4 linked regions of the Homo sapiens genome follow. The protein of the gene in region 4 interacts with the protein of the main gene of each other region in a pairwise test. Each region holds a gene or a part of one and is shown on either strand. Other genes may lie near its edges.

Evidence for each region. Proteins that work in one complex are often made in the same cells at the same time.
Region 1: the proteins of RMDN3 (region 4) and TF interact in binary tests that used the Homo sapiens proteins (3 or more experiments, as listed by UniProt).
Region 2: the proteins of RMDN3 (region 4) and CYB561D2 interact in binary tests that used the Homo sapiens proteins (3 or more experiments, as listed by UniProt).
Region 3: the proteins of RMDN3 (region 4) and WNK1 interact in a two-hybrid assay, tested with the Homo sapiens proteins (one large-scale study listed by IntAct).

The regions. Positions count from the first base shown.
Region 1 is NC_000003.12:133,770,393-133,773,892, reverse strand, and holds part of TF (serotransferrin isoform 1 precursor), read right to left. Parts: intron 3,386-3,500; coding exon 3,321-3,385; intron 1-3,320. UniProt on the Homo sapiens protein: Transferrins are iron binding transport proteins which can bind two Fe(3+) ions in association with the binding of an anion, usually bicarbonate.
Region 2 is NC_000003.12:50,349,648-50,353,661, reverse strand, and holds the start of CYB561D2 (transmembrane reductase CYB561D2), read right to left. Parts: upstream 2,801-4,014; 5' UTR 2,678-2,800; exon of another isoform or gene 2,254-2,677; 5' UTR 2,229-2,253; coding exon 2,102-2,228; intron 1,654-2,101; coding exon 1,616-1,653; intron 422-1,615; coding exon 1-421. Other genes in the region: GATOR1 complex protein NPRL2, read left to right, coding at 3,185-3,340, 3,640-3,731, 3,829-3,997. UniProt on the Homo sapiens protein: Transmembrane reductase that may use ascorbate as an electron donor in the cytoplasm and transfer electrons across endoplasmic reticulum membranes to reduce monodehydro-L-ascorbate radical and iron cations Fe(3+) in the lumen of that compartment.
Region 3 is NC_000012.12:881,579-885,078, reverse strand, and holds part of WNK1 (serine/threonine-protein kinase WNK1), read right to left. Parts: intron 3,388-3,500; coding exon 3,290-3,387; intron 3,169-3,289; coding exon 3,006-3,168; intron 2,137-3,005; coding exon 2,020-2,136; intron 1,685-2,019; coding exon 1,511-1,684; intron 1,306-1,510; coding exon 1,248-1,305; intron 959-1,247; coding exon 836-958; intron 431-835; coding exon 1-430. UniProt on the Homo sapiens protein: Serine/threonine-protein kinase component of the WNK1-SPAK/OSR1 kinase cascade, which acts as a key regulator of blood pressure and regulatory volume increase by promoting ion influx.
Region 4 is NC_000015.10:40,752,455-40,756,665, reverse strand, and holds the start of RMDN3 (regulator of microtubule dynamics protein 3), read left to right. Parts: upstream 1-1,411; 5' UTR 1,412-1,583; intron 1,584-1,875; 5' UTR 1,876-1,882; coding exon 1,883-2,069; intron 2,070-4,211.

The DNA.
Region 1 (3,500 bases), on a different chromosome or scaffold from region 4:
TAAGGGAGAGAGGAGACCGCCTCTGGAACCATCTCAGGCAGTAGGGTATGTGAGGCACTCAGGCAAGAGGAAAAGTGGGTTTGTGAGGACTTATGAATGGAAATTGATGTTAATGAATGAGCCAGAACCTAAAGGTAGAAAATTAAGAAAAATCAAATGGGAGGTGATTCAGTCTGGCTAGGAGGGCATCTAGAAGGGCATGTTAAAAATATGCTTTTTCAATAAAAATAATACACGTTTATTGGTGGAAATTTATAAAATGCCACGTAAGTATTGGGAAGAAAATTTTGAAGCATTTGTAATTTCATAGTCTACGCCTTCAAAATTGGTACATTTCTAACATTCTTTTTCCTACACACACCTATAATATGCACATACACACACACACACACACACACACACACACAAATTGTGATAAAAGAGCCCATGTGGGCTGAGCGCGGTGGGTCACACCTGTAATCCCAGCACTTTTGAGAGGCCGAGGTGGGCGGATCATGAGGCCAAGAGATGGAGACCATCCTGGCCAACATGGTGAAACCCCGTCTCTACTAAAAATACAAAAATTAGCTGGTCGTGGTGGTGCACGCCTGTAGTCCCAGCTACTTGGGAGGCTGAGGCAGGAGAATCACTTAAATCTGGGAGGCGGAGTTTGCAGTGAGCTGAGATCACATCACTGCACTCCAGCCTAGCAACAAAGTGAGACTCCATCTCAAAAAGAAAAAAAAGAAAAAAAAAAAGCCCACGTGGTTTTGTGTCTTCCTTCTTGTATATACCATAGCACTTAAGACAGATTTTGGAGGAGGGAGAGAGGGGGGCAAGAGTTGAAAAGCTACCTGTTGTGTGCTATGCTCACTACCTGGGTGACAGGTTCAATCATACCGCAAACCTCAGCATCATGCAGTATACCATGTAACAAACCTGCATATGTACCCTCAATCTAAAATATAAGTTGAAAAAGCAACAAATTAATAACAGAAGAAGGTAAGAAGGTGCAAAATATAAGTATGATGAATCAGACATGATGTGACTTACATTTAGTAATATTTATCAGGAATGTGATATTAAGTCAGGGGTATTAGACCAGTAGTTCCCAAACTTACAATACATCAAAATTACTTTGGCTCTTAAAAATCATGTTGTCTACCTTAAATACACACAATTATTTCAAAATTTAGTTTGAAAAAAGACACGTTTTGAAGAAATAAGATATTGACTGACAGACTTAATCTAGGCCTGATGGGCAGGGAGTATAGCAGGATTCTCTATAAGGATAGAGGCTGGGAGAAGAGGAGGGAACGTTGACAGAAAGATGAGGACAGTTGAGTTGTATATGGATTGTATATATACAACTACAATATATGAGGACATCCATATACACACGTAAAAAAATACAATTGCAATGCCAATGTACTCTCTACATAAAAGTGACACCTTGGGAAATAGACTGGAATGGAATTGAGATTGGATGTCAGGCCTCCTATCTTAATTCTATGCAGGAGGGAAGAATTTTTGAGTCATTGCAAAGAGTAAGAGAGTCAAAGCTTAAAGAAGGGAGCTCTACTCAGAAAAGTACCAAAAGAAATCAAGGGTGGCAAAGAGCCAAGCTTAGGGTAACACTCTCTTAAAGGAAAAAGCAATAATACGAGGGAAGAAAGGAAAATTAGTCAACCCAATATTTCTGCAAACAAATTCTTAGCAACTGCTGTGTACTATGTGCTACACTAGGTTCTGGGAATATAAGATGAAGAAAAAGAGCTCAAAGAGTTTCTGTAGCCAAAGTGTATTACAGAGTGTGGTGAATTCAATCATAATGGCAATATGAACAGAGGAGTCTTCTTGTAGGACAGGGTATGCCATCTGGGAAGGCTTCCTGGAGGGGCTGGTGCTGAGCCGGTTCATTCTGGATGAGTTGCCCAGGAAAAGTGAGGAGTTGGGGAATGAACATGAGAGAAGGCAGGGAAGTATTCACAGCTTGAATTCCAGTGGGCTCTGCTAGCACTTAGTGATACTGAGGGGTCAGGTGTGGAGTGCTCAGTCTGGCCAATGTTTGTTTTGCTTTGTTTTGTTTGTTTTTATTAATATTATGGCTGTCCAACGTTCACCCACAAGTTAACACCCATTGATTCTTTTTTTTTTTTTTTTTTTTTTTGAGACGGAGTCTCGCTCTGTCGCCCAGGCCGGACTGCGGACTGCAGTGGCGCAATCTCGGCTCACTGCAAGCTCCGCTTCCCAGGTTCACGCCATTCTCCTGCCTCAGCCTCCCGAGTAGCTGGGACTACAGGCGCCCACCACCGCGCCCGGCTAATTTTTTGTATTTTTAGTAGAGACGGGGTTTCACCTTGTTGGCCAGGATGGTCTCGATCTCCTGACCTCATGATCCACCCGCCTCGGCCTCCCAAAGTTCTGGGATTACAGGCGTGAGCCACTGCGCCCGGCTTAACACCCATTGATTCTTGCTTGAATCAGTTATCAATATATTGGTTGCCAAGTGATAGTTTTCTAACTCTATCATTCCTTCCACATTGATTAGTTTTCCCTTCTTCATTTGTTTAATCAGTATTGCCTCATGCATTCTTATTTCTTTCAATGGGCTATTATCCCTTACTGCTATCATTATTTATTTTAATGCTCAAAATTCCCAGACTTGGCAACAGGAGATCCTTCAAATTGGTTCTTGTATGCTTTGAGTGTCCCATCACTGTTTGAGCACTTCAGTGTGTTGTTCTAGGCTCAGCATCTATTTTTCCTGCCCCAGCCCTGAAGTCAGCTATTTTTCCAAGGAGTTCTGGTTCCTTTTAGTAAAGAAGAGTACTTACAAGCCAATATCTTGGTGCTTACTCCTGCTGGTATGCCATTGCCTCTAGGCCTTCTCAATGGACACAACCCAGAAGTACAGTAAATAGCTATAAAAGGCATTACTGGGATAACTGACAACAGTTAAATGTGGACTGTGGACGTGACGAGTATTAAATCCACATAATGTAAAAGATCCTGATCTTGGTAATCATACTGTGGGTATGCAAGAGATTGTCTTATTCTTAGGAAATAGGCACTGAAGTATTTAGGGGAAAGGAGCACAAGGCTTGCAGCTGTGGGAGTGTGTGTTGGGGAGGATTTAGGGCCATTGGGGGCCCCATAATCCTGATCATTCTGCGCACTCAGGTGAACATGTCTCTCTTCACTGAGCAGACAGACTGAGAATCAGAGCTTTGAAGTCTGACAGTGTACATAATACTTCCACAAAGGCATCCCTGAATACAAGTGAATACCAGTGACCAGGATCTAGTGATCTAGGGGGACAGAGGAGCAGGTGCACTTACCCCCAGTGTTCTGTGGGACAGTCTGGTGTTTCACAAAGGCCACATCTCCCTTCTCAACCAGACACCTGCAGAGGTCCAGAAGTGGGAGAGAAAAAAAAAGGCGGTCAGAGTGACTTATCTGTCATTCAGGGGGCTACCTTATAGATTCAGGACAGCCATCTGAAAACAGCAACTGTAACT
Region 2 (4,014 bases), on a different chromosome or scaffold from region 4:
CAGCCAGGTACCAGGCTGCACCAGTGACAGAGGCAGTGAACCAGAGTGAGCACATGCCCAGCAAGAGGCTGGCACTACCCAGCAGGTAGCCCACCAGCCCAGAAGTAGCATGGTATAGCTTGAGCTTCGCCAGGGGCCATCGGGGCAGCAGCTTGGGGTAGAGCAGCCCCACCCCACCTGAGCACTGCAGCCCTGCCCACAGCACAGCCAGCAGCCCTGCCTGCCCATGCCGCGTAACCAGGTGGGCTTTGCCAAGCTGCTCTTTGTGGAGGATGACAAGGCCGAGGCCCAGCAGTGCACACAGCAGGGCCAGCAGCTGCAGCACCCAGTGGCAGCGTGCTCGGCCTTTCCGTGAGAGGGAGTGCAGCAGCGAACTCTCAGGAGAAAACACCAGTAGTGCCTCGGTCATCAGGAAGGAGAACTGAGGAAACAGGGGATGGGAAGCTCAAGTGAGGGTGCTGCCCCAGAAGAGGAGAAGAGGGCTTTATGTAACCCTTAGCTGCCAGTGAGTCTGGGCTGATTCCCCTTTTTCTTTCTCTCCCCACTGACAAGACTATCCATTTGGTGGGGCAAGAGTGGAAAACCCCATCTGGGATGATATATGTGCCCTGAATAATCTCCACACTTCCTCCTAGGTGCCAGTCTGAAATGTCATCTGTCGTATGTTACCAAGCAAACACAGGGTTTGAGATGTGGCAGTTATAAATGATTCACAAGCTTTGTTTCCCTAACGTGGGGCTGGATACAATTTCTTGGCAAGAGCTGGCCACATGGGTGCACTGTTTCAGGGAAAGTTAGGTGCATCACCAGAAATTAAAGTAAAAAGGGACAGAGGTACATCCAAATGCAATGTCTCAGCTTTCTGCCTAGAGGTGGGTGAAGCCTCATTGTGCTTAGACAAATCTTACCCATTTGACCTGGGTCCTGGGTCTTCATTACTCTGATTCAAGTCTCTTTTTTTTTTTTTTTTTTTTTTTGGAGATAGTCTCTCTCTGTCACCCAGGCTGGAGTGCAGTGGCCTGATCTCGGCTCACTGCAATCTCCGCCTTCCGGGTTCAAGCAATTCTCCTGCCTCAGGCTCCTGAGTAACTGGGATTACAGGCACCTGCCACCACACCCAGCTAATTTTTGGTTTTTTGGGGGGTTTTTTTGTTTTTGGGTTTTTTTTTTTTTTTGGGACAGAGCCTCGCTCTGTCGCCTAGGTTAGAGGTTAGAGTGCAGTGGCGCAATCTTGGCTCACTGCAACCTCCGTCTCCTGGGTTCATGCGATTCTCCTGCCTCAGCCTCCCGAGTAGCTGGGACTACAGGCGCGTGCCACCATGCCCGGCTAATTTTTTGTATTTTTAGTAGAGACGGGGTTTCACCATGTTGGCCAAGATGGTCTCGATCTCCTGACCTCAGGTGATGTGCCCGCCTCGGCCTCTAAGTGCTGGGATTACAGGCATGAGCCACCGTGCCCAGCCTCAAGTCTGAAATATATACCATGGGCAGGAGTAGTTGGAGCATGCAACTCTTCCAAACAGATATTAAATGTGGACAAAGATTCAGAGGCTGCCAGGGCCACCAACCATGCCCATGCTCCCACCCCTAAGAACTGCCCAGGCCCACTACTTACAGCCAAAGACATAAGCACCGGGTGCCAGGAGAACAGGCCTGGAATGAGAAGAGGAGGCCTCATGGGGCTGAGGCAAGAAGAAACCAGCCATACCAATCCTTAAGGGTTGAGGAATACCAGCAGCCCATCACCCAAGGAGGTGCTGCCAAACTGTGAGCCCCTTCTTGCTCTGCAACAAGCTGACCCCACACCTATCCTCTCTTCCTGGCCTCTTCCTGGATCAGAGGCCATGCTTTGCCACTCCTCTGGCAGTCCTCCCTCCTTCCCTTACACCTCCTGAGAGGCAGCCAAATGGAGCACCCAGAGAAGGAAAGACAAACCAGGAATTCTGTGTGCCCTGGCCATACCTACCTGCTCCACCTCACTCATCGCTCCAGCACAGAATTCCCTCAACCAGCCAGGCCTGTTCCCGGAAGTCCCACTGCCCTTCCTCCCCAGGAACAGTGGCCCTTCCCTTCCCAGAAGTCAGCTATGAATTCTACTTACTGGAGCCAGGCCTGGCAAGCACAGCCACAAAGATGGTAAAGCCCAGGGCCACAAGGTGGGCGGCAGCGCCAGAAGCAGTACGCAGAGCTCGGTAGATGTGTGACTCGGTCTCCGCAGAAAGGGCCATCGTCAGCCGTGCTAGTGGTTGTAGCCTGAAAGCATAGTAGCGTGGGCCAGGATCTCAGGTGCCCACTGTTCACTCCTCACTGGAGAAAAGGCTGCAAGGCAGGAATGCCACCCTCTTCCAATAAGTTATGGTAGGAAAGAACAGTACCAAGACCAGCACCAGGAATGGTCACAACATGCCAGTCGACGGCCGGCGGCCTGTCAACGTGTACCCATGTCTGAACTGGTACCAATCGCTGGCCCGCCTTCCAGGTAGGAGGCGCAAAGCCATGTAAGACTACAAATCCCAGCGTGTACCACGCCGTCGCCGGCAGTAGAGCCAGCTGGGAGGGCGCGGAGCACTATGGAAATTGTAGTTCCCTGCTGCGGTCCCAGTTACAGCGTGAATCCCTTAGCGCACCGCCTCCCCAAGTGCTGCCAGCATGCTGCCCCTCCACGCTAGGGACTTGCCTGCCTCTGCCGCAGCGCAGATCTGATGCGGTGGTTTCCTCCAAAGAAAGCGGGATACTCCGGGCCCTGCCGCGCGCACCGCCGCTCCGTCACGGAGCCGCTTTACTTCCGGGTGCGACGTCTACCCACCCAGGACTTCCTGGGACGAGCCGTCCCCCGCCCCAGCCACGCCTCTGAGTCGCGCTGCGCAGGCGCCATTGGGCAGAGGGATTGGCAAGCTTGCGTGCCCCAGCGACACAGGCCTCGAGGCTGTCTCTGACAAGTGTTCACAGGAGGTGGGGACGCCTCTGCGCGAGGAACGAGGAGCTACGGGCCTGGGCCCGGTTATTGCCATGGGCAGCGGCTGCCGCATCGAATGCATATTCTTCAGCGAGTTCCACCCCACGCTGGGACCCAAGATCACCTATCAGGTGCCACCCGGGCTCGCGGGACTGGGCGGGAAGAGGGACGTTCTCGAGAGCTCAACTGGCTGCCTGAAGGCAGTAGTTTCCCGTGCTGCACGCAGGCATGCTGCTTCATTCGCAGACAACTGTGAGGCTAGAGGATAGTCAGACCCAGGCCCCCGGCTCCCAATGTGGCAGGGAAGACATACGTCACATTGGCAGTGTTTGTAGGATATCGGGCTGTAGGGATCCGGTTGGGGGGTTCCAGGTCCCACAGAAGGTGAGTTGGGTGACCCATGAGTATCCCTGAACTGAGTGAAGAGTAAATGATGCATAGGAAGTTTAGGTAAGGCAGGAGAAAGTGTTCCAGGTAGAGGGAACAGCATATGCAGAAGCCAGGAAGGAGGTGAGATCATAGCGTATGTTTGGAAACAGAAAGAAGTAATAGGCCTGAGTGGATGGGAGAGAGGGGAACGCTGGAGAAGAGGACTTGGGCTTGGGGGGCATGAGGAGGTCACCATTTGTACTACACCCAGTACAGATGTCCACTGAGGGGCCCATTGCCACTCCCCTCCCCAGGTCCCTGAAGACTTCATCTCCCGAGAGCTGTTTGACACAGTCCAAGTGTACATCATCACCAAGCCAGAGCTGCAGAACAAGCTTATCACTGTGTGAGACCCTAGCTCGGGGTGAGCGGTGGGTGGCAGGGGTTGTCCCAGGAGGAGGAAGGGACAGGCTTGGGGGCCTGACTGTGTTCCAATTATCCAGCACAGCTATGGAAAAGAAGCTGATCGGCTGTCCTGTGTGCATCGAACACAAGAAGTACAGCCGCAATGCTCTCCTCTTCAACCTGGGCTTCGTGTGTGATGCCCAGGCCAAGACCTGCGCCCTCGAGCCCATTGTTAAAAAGCTGGCTGGCTATCTGACCACACTAGAGGTCTGCAATGAGATGGG
Region 3 (3,500 bases), on a different chromosome or scaffold from region 4:
GATATTGAGACAACTGCAGGTATTGTGATACTTGAAACTACGCTGGAAAGTACTGGTGATTCAGACACAGGTGGTATGGGGAGACCACCTGAAGTTACCACACCTGTGCTGGTGGCAACTCCAGCAATCCCCTCTTCAGTGGGCACTGTAACCTCAGACTGAATTACTGATGTGGAAATGTCATTAGGAGGGCTGCTTGTTGCAGGGACTGGTGCTGTGGCTGCTGCTGTGGTTGGGACTCCAGCAATGCTACTTAAGAAAGGAGGTACTACTGGAAATGTTGGTCCTGTATGACTAAAGTTTGGAGGTGCTGTGTTGGGTCCTTCTGTCATTTGGGCACGTCTAAGTTCAGAAAAGGCCTGTTGTAGACTAAGGGATGATGCAGAGTGAGACAAGTTCATTCCAGGGCTCTGAGCTGTAGAGGCAGCAACTGCAAAGGAATACAAAAAGATAAGAATCAGCTGATTTTAAAAGGATGGATTCAAAAGATTGTCTGCTAGCCTAAGTCAGCTCCTATAAATATCTGTTTTTGATAAAAAATATGGAGTAATCTTAAAACATAGACAACAGTACTAAGTGCAGAAATAAACACATACTACAATATCTATTATACAGACTATATCTTGGTATGGCCGTGCTTCTTGGCTTTTTCTGTAATTCTCTGTATTCTTCATCTATTTCCCTCTCCCATATGTTTATCTGTTGGTTATAACTTCAGTTTTCTATTCTTTTTTATTATCTGTGTCATCATAAATTACTGCTTTATGATTAAGCTTTCAACATAGCAGAGGCACTGTAGAATTTACATAACAATGTGGCAGAATCAATCCCTTACCTGTATCTGTTATTTCACTGGGGAAAACTTTTGATTCTCGTAATCGGCTTTCTGGCACAGGACTCACTATAAACCGCCTTCCCGCAGAATGAACAACTTGAGTTAAAGAACTGGTAGGAATGCCTGGTCAAAAACAAACAAACAAACGTAACTTAATAGCATTATTATTATAAATATTGTTAGACTTCATTATTGGCACATACAACTGCTTTTTTTGAGGCACGGTCTCATTCTCTCACCCAGGCTGGAGTGCAGTGGCGCGATCTCAGCTCACTGCAACCTCCGCCTCCTGGGTTCAAGCGATTCTCGTGCCTCGGCCTCCTGAGTAGCTGGGACTACAGAAGCCTGCCACCACCCTCGGCTAATGGCTTCTTAAGTCAAAGGTAAAAACAAGGAAAGAAAATAAATTCACCTATTTGCTGTGGCATGGAAGACGCAGGAATTGGTTGTTTGAACTCTCCTTCCAATTTCTACAACAAACAAAAGTGATTAAATACATTCTCAAATGCAATCTCAATGACTAGGCAAAGCAAACTGCCACATGTGAAGAGAACATAAAAGTTTGTTGTCGGTCATGGGTGTCAGGTGATATCACTGGACATTTTGCATAGCAAATTTAGAACTATGAAAATATTTTAAATCAACAAAGTTTCACTATGGGAGTGGTGAACCTACCTGAGAACCTGAAAAGCCATAGTCATCCTTTCCTTGTAGACTCTCCAATCCCTGATCACCCTCTGGTTCCACACTGACATCCTCACTGAGCATTTCATCAGCTTTTTCAATAATTTCTCGCACTTGATCCACAAACGACTCTCTCTCTATTGCTAGAATAAAGTCATTGTTCACCTGTAAAAGAAATGTGATGTCAGTCTAATTAGTGTCATTTCTCAAACTTTATGTCACTTTTATGACTTCTGTCCTATCTGCATACTTACCTATATTTTTATTTATTTTGTACTCAAGTTAGCTCTTCTCTTTTTAAGAACTTCAATATCTAGTTAGACATAGCCTAGACAAAAACATCACTAAATCACAGGTTGGGTGTGATAGTTTTATTCACATTGAAGTAAATGCATAACTTTAAAAAAACATGGATTATAAAATATGGCATATTTGCCTAGAGCAATGGCTATTAAGATCAAGTACTAAGGAAAAACCTAGAACTCCAAATGCAGACGTACCATAATTGTTGCTATCTCCTCGGGGTTGTCACCATCTAGGTCAAATTTGAATGTAACCATTTTCCTATTATGAGTCTCTAATTGACATTCTACTACTCGGTCTCCTTTATTTGAAACCTAAAAAGAAAAAAGGTACATCATCTCCAAAGACCATATTCAGCTTTATTACTGAATTTCAGAAAAGCAATGCAGATTAGCACTTGACTTTATGTCTAAGGAAGCATAGTGTTATCGCTGTTCCTTGGAGCACTAGTACTTTGTCTCTTAAACTGGTAGCAAGAAAAATCTTTGAGAAGACGTTAGCCTTTGAGCTACTTACTAAAACTCTCTATTCTTTTTCTAAAAGATAAGTAGTGCTTTATCATAGAAATATGGAATGTAAGAATATCATTTGGCTAATTATAAGATCCTATACATTCATCAATTCATCTAAGCCTTAAGAAATATTTAAATGATATTAACTGCTGGCCCTATCATAGCTTTATGAACTACCTTTTCATTTTTCTAAAAATGTGATATTTAAGTCAAAGAGACTGTGGGCATGAAATGAGAAGAGTACTATATAAATTATCTGGCTGGGTGCCTGTAATCCCAGTGGTTTGGGAGGCTGAGGCAGGTGAGTCACCTGAGGTCAGGAGTTTGAAACCAGCCTGACCAATATGGTGAAACCCTGTCTCTACTAAAAATACAAAAACTAGCCGTGCGTGGTGGCACGTGTCTGTAGTCCCAGCTACTTGGGAGGCTGAGGCAGGAGAATCGCTTGAACCCAGGAGGCACTGCAATCACAGTGAGAAGAGATCATGCCACTGCACTCCAGCCTGGGCGACAGAGCGAGACTCCGTCTAAAAAAAAAAAAAATTATCTGTCACACACAGATAGTTATCTTTATTTTATGAAGTGAGTGGTTTGGATTTGATGACCTCTAAAATCTTTTTCAGTGTCAAATTCCTTTAACAACATGAAACTCACAAATTAGGAATACTTACATTCAAAATTCTTAATTTTGGGCGTGAAGTTTTTTCATGTCGAGAGCGACTCCTTACAGATTTTCGGTAATGCCGTTTTGTAGTTCTTCCTTCATGCCTTCCACTGGAAGATGGGACGTTCTCATTGCCATCACTCATACCTGAAGCAACATCTGAATGTGCACTTTGAAATTTAAAAAGAAAAAAAAGTGCAGTTTATAATATGAGATTTAAAGGTCTGACAGTTTGGCGTTTCATACCGTCTTATTTACCAGTCAAGGAAGGAGAATTCTAGTTTTACGTACCTGTCTACAGAGGAAGCCAAAGTGGTCGGCTGGGTAGCTTGGGTCTGTGCTACTGCAACTGGCTCTGCAGGAGCAACCTGAGAGACTCCCTGAGTACTCTGTGAATCGAAAAGATAACTCAAATCTCGGTAGTAATAGATTTATCATTCACTATCCCCAATAATCTACTTATTTTTTTCCTTATCCCTCCCCACTACGTCCTAGAAGCACT
Region 4 (4,211 bases):
GTGCAAGCCTGTAATTCCAGCTACTCCGGAGGCTGAGGCAGGAGAATTGCTTGAACCCAGGGGCGGGGGAGGAGGTTGCAGTGAGCCGAGATCGCACCACTGCATTCCAGCATGGGCGAAAAGAGCGAAACTCCGTCTAAAAAAAAAAAAAAAGTATAATGGAGGCAATAGAGCCACAGGAGCAAAGCAGGGTGAAAAGCTTAATTTCACCAAGGTGGTGATCTGGGAAGGTTTCCAGAGGAAATTTTTATTTCCTCCAAAATAAAGTGTATATATATATATATACTTTATATATATATAAATATATTTTTTGTTGTTGTTGTTTTTGTTTATTTGTTTTGAGAGGAGGCCTCACTCTGTTGCCCAAGCTGGAGTACAGTGGCGAGATCTCGGCTCACTGCAACCTCTGCCTCCTGGGTTCAAGCAATTCTCCTGCCTCAGCCTCCCGAGTAGCTGGGATTACAGGCGTGCACCACCATGCCCAGCTAATTTTTGTACTTTTAGTAGAGACGGAGTTTCGCCAGGTTGGCCTGGGTGGCCTCGATATCCTGACTTCTGTTGCCCAGAGTGATCATGGCTCACTGCAGCCTCGACGACCTGGGCTCAAGTGATCCTCCCATCTCAGCCCCCAGAGTATCTGTGACTACAGTCACGTGCCACCACGGCCGGCCTCCTGTATTCTTATATGTATACAATATCTCACAATTAAAGGGTAAATAAATATAAGATCTAGTCAAGGGTATTGGGAGGACTGGCCTAGATATTTCTTTCACTAAACTAAATTTTAACTCTTAAGAAATGTTCACAATAAAATTGTTATCATAGTCCATAAAATCGGTCTTTTTAGTTGCCACAATTATAAGAAGTTGCATACAATTACAAGAGTAAAACAGAATTATAAGACAGCACGTTAGGTTTAAGATTTATGGCCGGGTGCGGCGGCTCACGCACTTTGGGAGCCCGAGGCGGGCGGATCGCACTTTGAGAGACCAGGAGAGCGGGACCCAGTCTCTACAAAATAAAAATAAAAATAAAATGTGGGGAGAGCGTGACGTTTTCCAGGTACAGAGGGGAGGTCCAGGCAGAAGCGCAGGTAGAAAGTGTGAATATGCTGAGCGTATTCCGGGAGCAGCAAGTTAAGCCGGTGTGACCGGAGGGAAATGGAGGCCTGGCTGCCGGACGGTGAGGGTGACTGCGCGAGCGTCCGCCCAAGAAGTCTCCCTGCCTTCCCGCCTTTCCCCTGTCTTGGGCCCCTTCTTGCTTTCCTTTCGCGCTCTGTGCTGACTCCGCCCCTCCGGCGGCGCCCGTGGCCCCGCCCCTGAGGGAAACAGACAAGGGGCGGGGCCGGCGCGGTCATCTCTCTGCGCCTTCCCGCAGGGCGCCGAGCACCTGGCGCCGCCTGCCTGACGTCACGGTCACTGACAGCGTGAGCCCGCGGCGGCTGCTGCCATGGTGGCTGGCGGCCGGGTAAGGGTCTGAGTGGATCTCCTGCCAGGCCAGAGCGCCTTCGGGGGCCGCGGCGGAAGGCCAGGAGTTTGCAGCCAGGGCGCCGGGTTTGTGGTCTGCAGTGTCGTGAGGCTGAGGTGGGGGTTGAAGGCCCAGAAGCCGGACTCTGTGACCCGGGTCGGGGGGTGTACTGGAGGGGCGGCTACGTCCAGGCTGGGTGAGAAGAGAGGCAGTGGGGCCCAGGAGGCTGGAGGAAGCCTTAGGGTTCAGACTGGGGTGCACGTAGTCGAGAGCTCAGGGTTTGGGCAAGGGGATACCTGCCGGGGTTCAGCCTTGAGGGTGGGTTTACCGGGTTCACGAATCTCTCTCTCTCCTTACCCCCGCCCGCCCGCCCGCCTGCCTGCTCCCGGTGACTTCTGCTGGCCGCAGGTGCAGCATGTCTAGACTGGGAGCCCTGGGTGGTGCCCGTGCCGGGCTGGGACTGTTGCTGGGTACCGCCGCCGGCCTTGGATTCCTGTGCCTCCTTTACAGCCAGCGATGGAAACGGACCCAGCGTCATGGCCGCAGCCAGAGCCTGCCCAACTCCCTGGACTATACGCAGACTTCAGATCCCGGACGCCACGGTAGGAGCCCGTCTCCTGAGACCGCGGTCACTGCAGACTAATGGGCCTGAGGTCTGGGCTGCTTTCGGTGGAGACTGTGGGACAGGGTAACGGAGAGAAGTGCTTTAGGGTTTCACTTTTTTGGAAGCTTGTTGAAAAAGCAGTCGTCGGGCTGGGCGCGGTGGCTCACGCCTGTAATCCCAGCACTTTGGGAGGCCGAGGCGGGCGGATCACCTGAGGTCAGGAGTTCAAGACCAGCCTGGCCAACGTTCAACCAGATGTCAACATGGTGAAACCCCATCTCTACTAAAAATACAAAAATTAGCCGGGCGTGGTGGCGCGGCCTGTAGTCCCAGCTACTGGGGAGGCTGAGGCACGAGAATCGCTTGAACCTGGTAGGCGGAGGCCGCAGTGAGCTGAGGTTGCGCCACTGCACTCCAGCCTGGGTGACAGAGTGGGACTCTGTCTCAAAAAAAAAAAAAAAAAAAAAGCAGTCGTGGTTTTCTCTACTCTTTCGCCTGTACTCACAAGAAAGTATATTTCAAAAAGACTGTTTAACTTTCACTTTTAGTTCTGGCCACAATAGTGCTATGTGGGTATTAAAGGCACTTGCTTAGTGTTGGGTGAGGTGTGTAATAAGTAGAGGAAGAGTCCAAAAGAGGGCAAAAAGAATAATCTTGTAGGGATTAAAAGTCTTGAGGCTTATGTATTAAATCATATATTAGAATTTGAAGACAACTTGGCAACTATCAAGACAACTTGGCAACTATCTCATTCAAGTTTTTTTTTCTTTTTATCCCTCCTATGAGGAAACCAAGATTCAAAAAGATGGTATAACTTTCCTGAGGCTGTCACAGATTAAGTGGCAAGGTTGGGCCTGGTCACCTGGTCCAGTGGACTTTCTACGGCATAGGGCTAGGAGCACGCTTAATGCAATTGAAGCTGAATGTGGCTGGCAGCCTGTACAGCTGAAATGAGTAGTTCTTGCAGATTTGTCAATTCATTTGAGCAAAGGATCTAGGGCTGGTTCAAACTACTACCATCTTTGTGCAAGAGGAGTGTTTTTTTTCTTTTCTTTTCTTTTTTCTTTTCTTTTCTTTTTTTTGAGATGGAGTCTCGCTCTGTTGCCCAGGCTGGAGTGCAGTGGCATGATCTTGGCTCACTGCAACCTCCGCCTCCCTGGGTTCAAGTGATTCTCGTGCCTCAGCCTCCCGAGTAGCTGGGATCACAGGTGCGTGCCACCATGCCCAGCTAATTTTTGTATTTTTAGTAAAGATGGGGTTTCCCCATGTTGGCCAGGCTGGTCTCCAACTCCTGGCCTCGGCCTCCTAAAGTGCTGGGATTACAGGCGTGAGCCACCACACCTGGCCAAGAGGAGCGTTTACATTATCTCACTCCCATGCTAATTGGAAATGAGTGTTTTCTCTGATTGCCAATGTTAGATGGTTTGGAAAAGTTAGTTTTGGAGTCTTCAAAGAGCTATCAGCTTAGATTGCAAATGATTGTCAGCATTTTATAATCTTGTGGTAATCTAGTATTGGAGTGTGCTTCCTTCCCTTGTATTTTGTTTGTAATTGCTTCGCAGTAGTGTTTCTTCTGAGATTAGAAGAAAGTGGCCACATTGCCAGGGATCTTTCTTGCACTACATTCTTGAGCATTATTGGATGTATGTTGTGGCCTGGCCTAGTTTTTTACCAGATTTCCTTTAAGAAGGGATTTATGCTTGCCGTATTGTAGGGTCCTGCCTCTCTGGTTTCTTTTTTGTTTTTGCATTTTCCAGTTCAGTTACCATAGGTGGCTGTCACTTTGCTAGCATTTCACTGCTGGAATTTACTCTGAGATCTAGGGTTGGGTCAGCAGGGCTTAGTGACGGTGTCTTTCTGAGGCAGTTTGGATGGGCTTTTTCTGGTGTACCTTTTCTCTTAATAACTGCCCCCTTTCTCCTAGTCCTTCTCTGATATACTAAATGAAGTTCTGGGAGAAACTCCAAGTTTTCCCTACTATTATTTGTGAAGTGAGAGATCAGAATTTGAGGGAGCTCAGTTTTAGTTTTAGTTTTGCTATGTGGTTGGTATTGACTCCTTGGTATTGGGCACTATATGGTGAGGTGAAGGTTTTTGTTTTTTTTTAACTCTAGCAGGACAGCTGTCCTCCTTCAGGTTC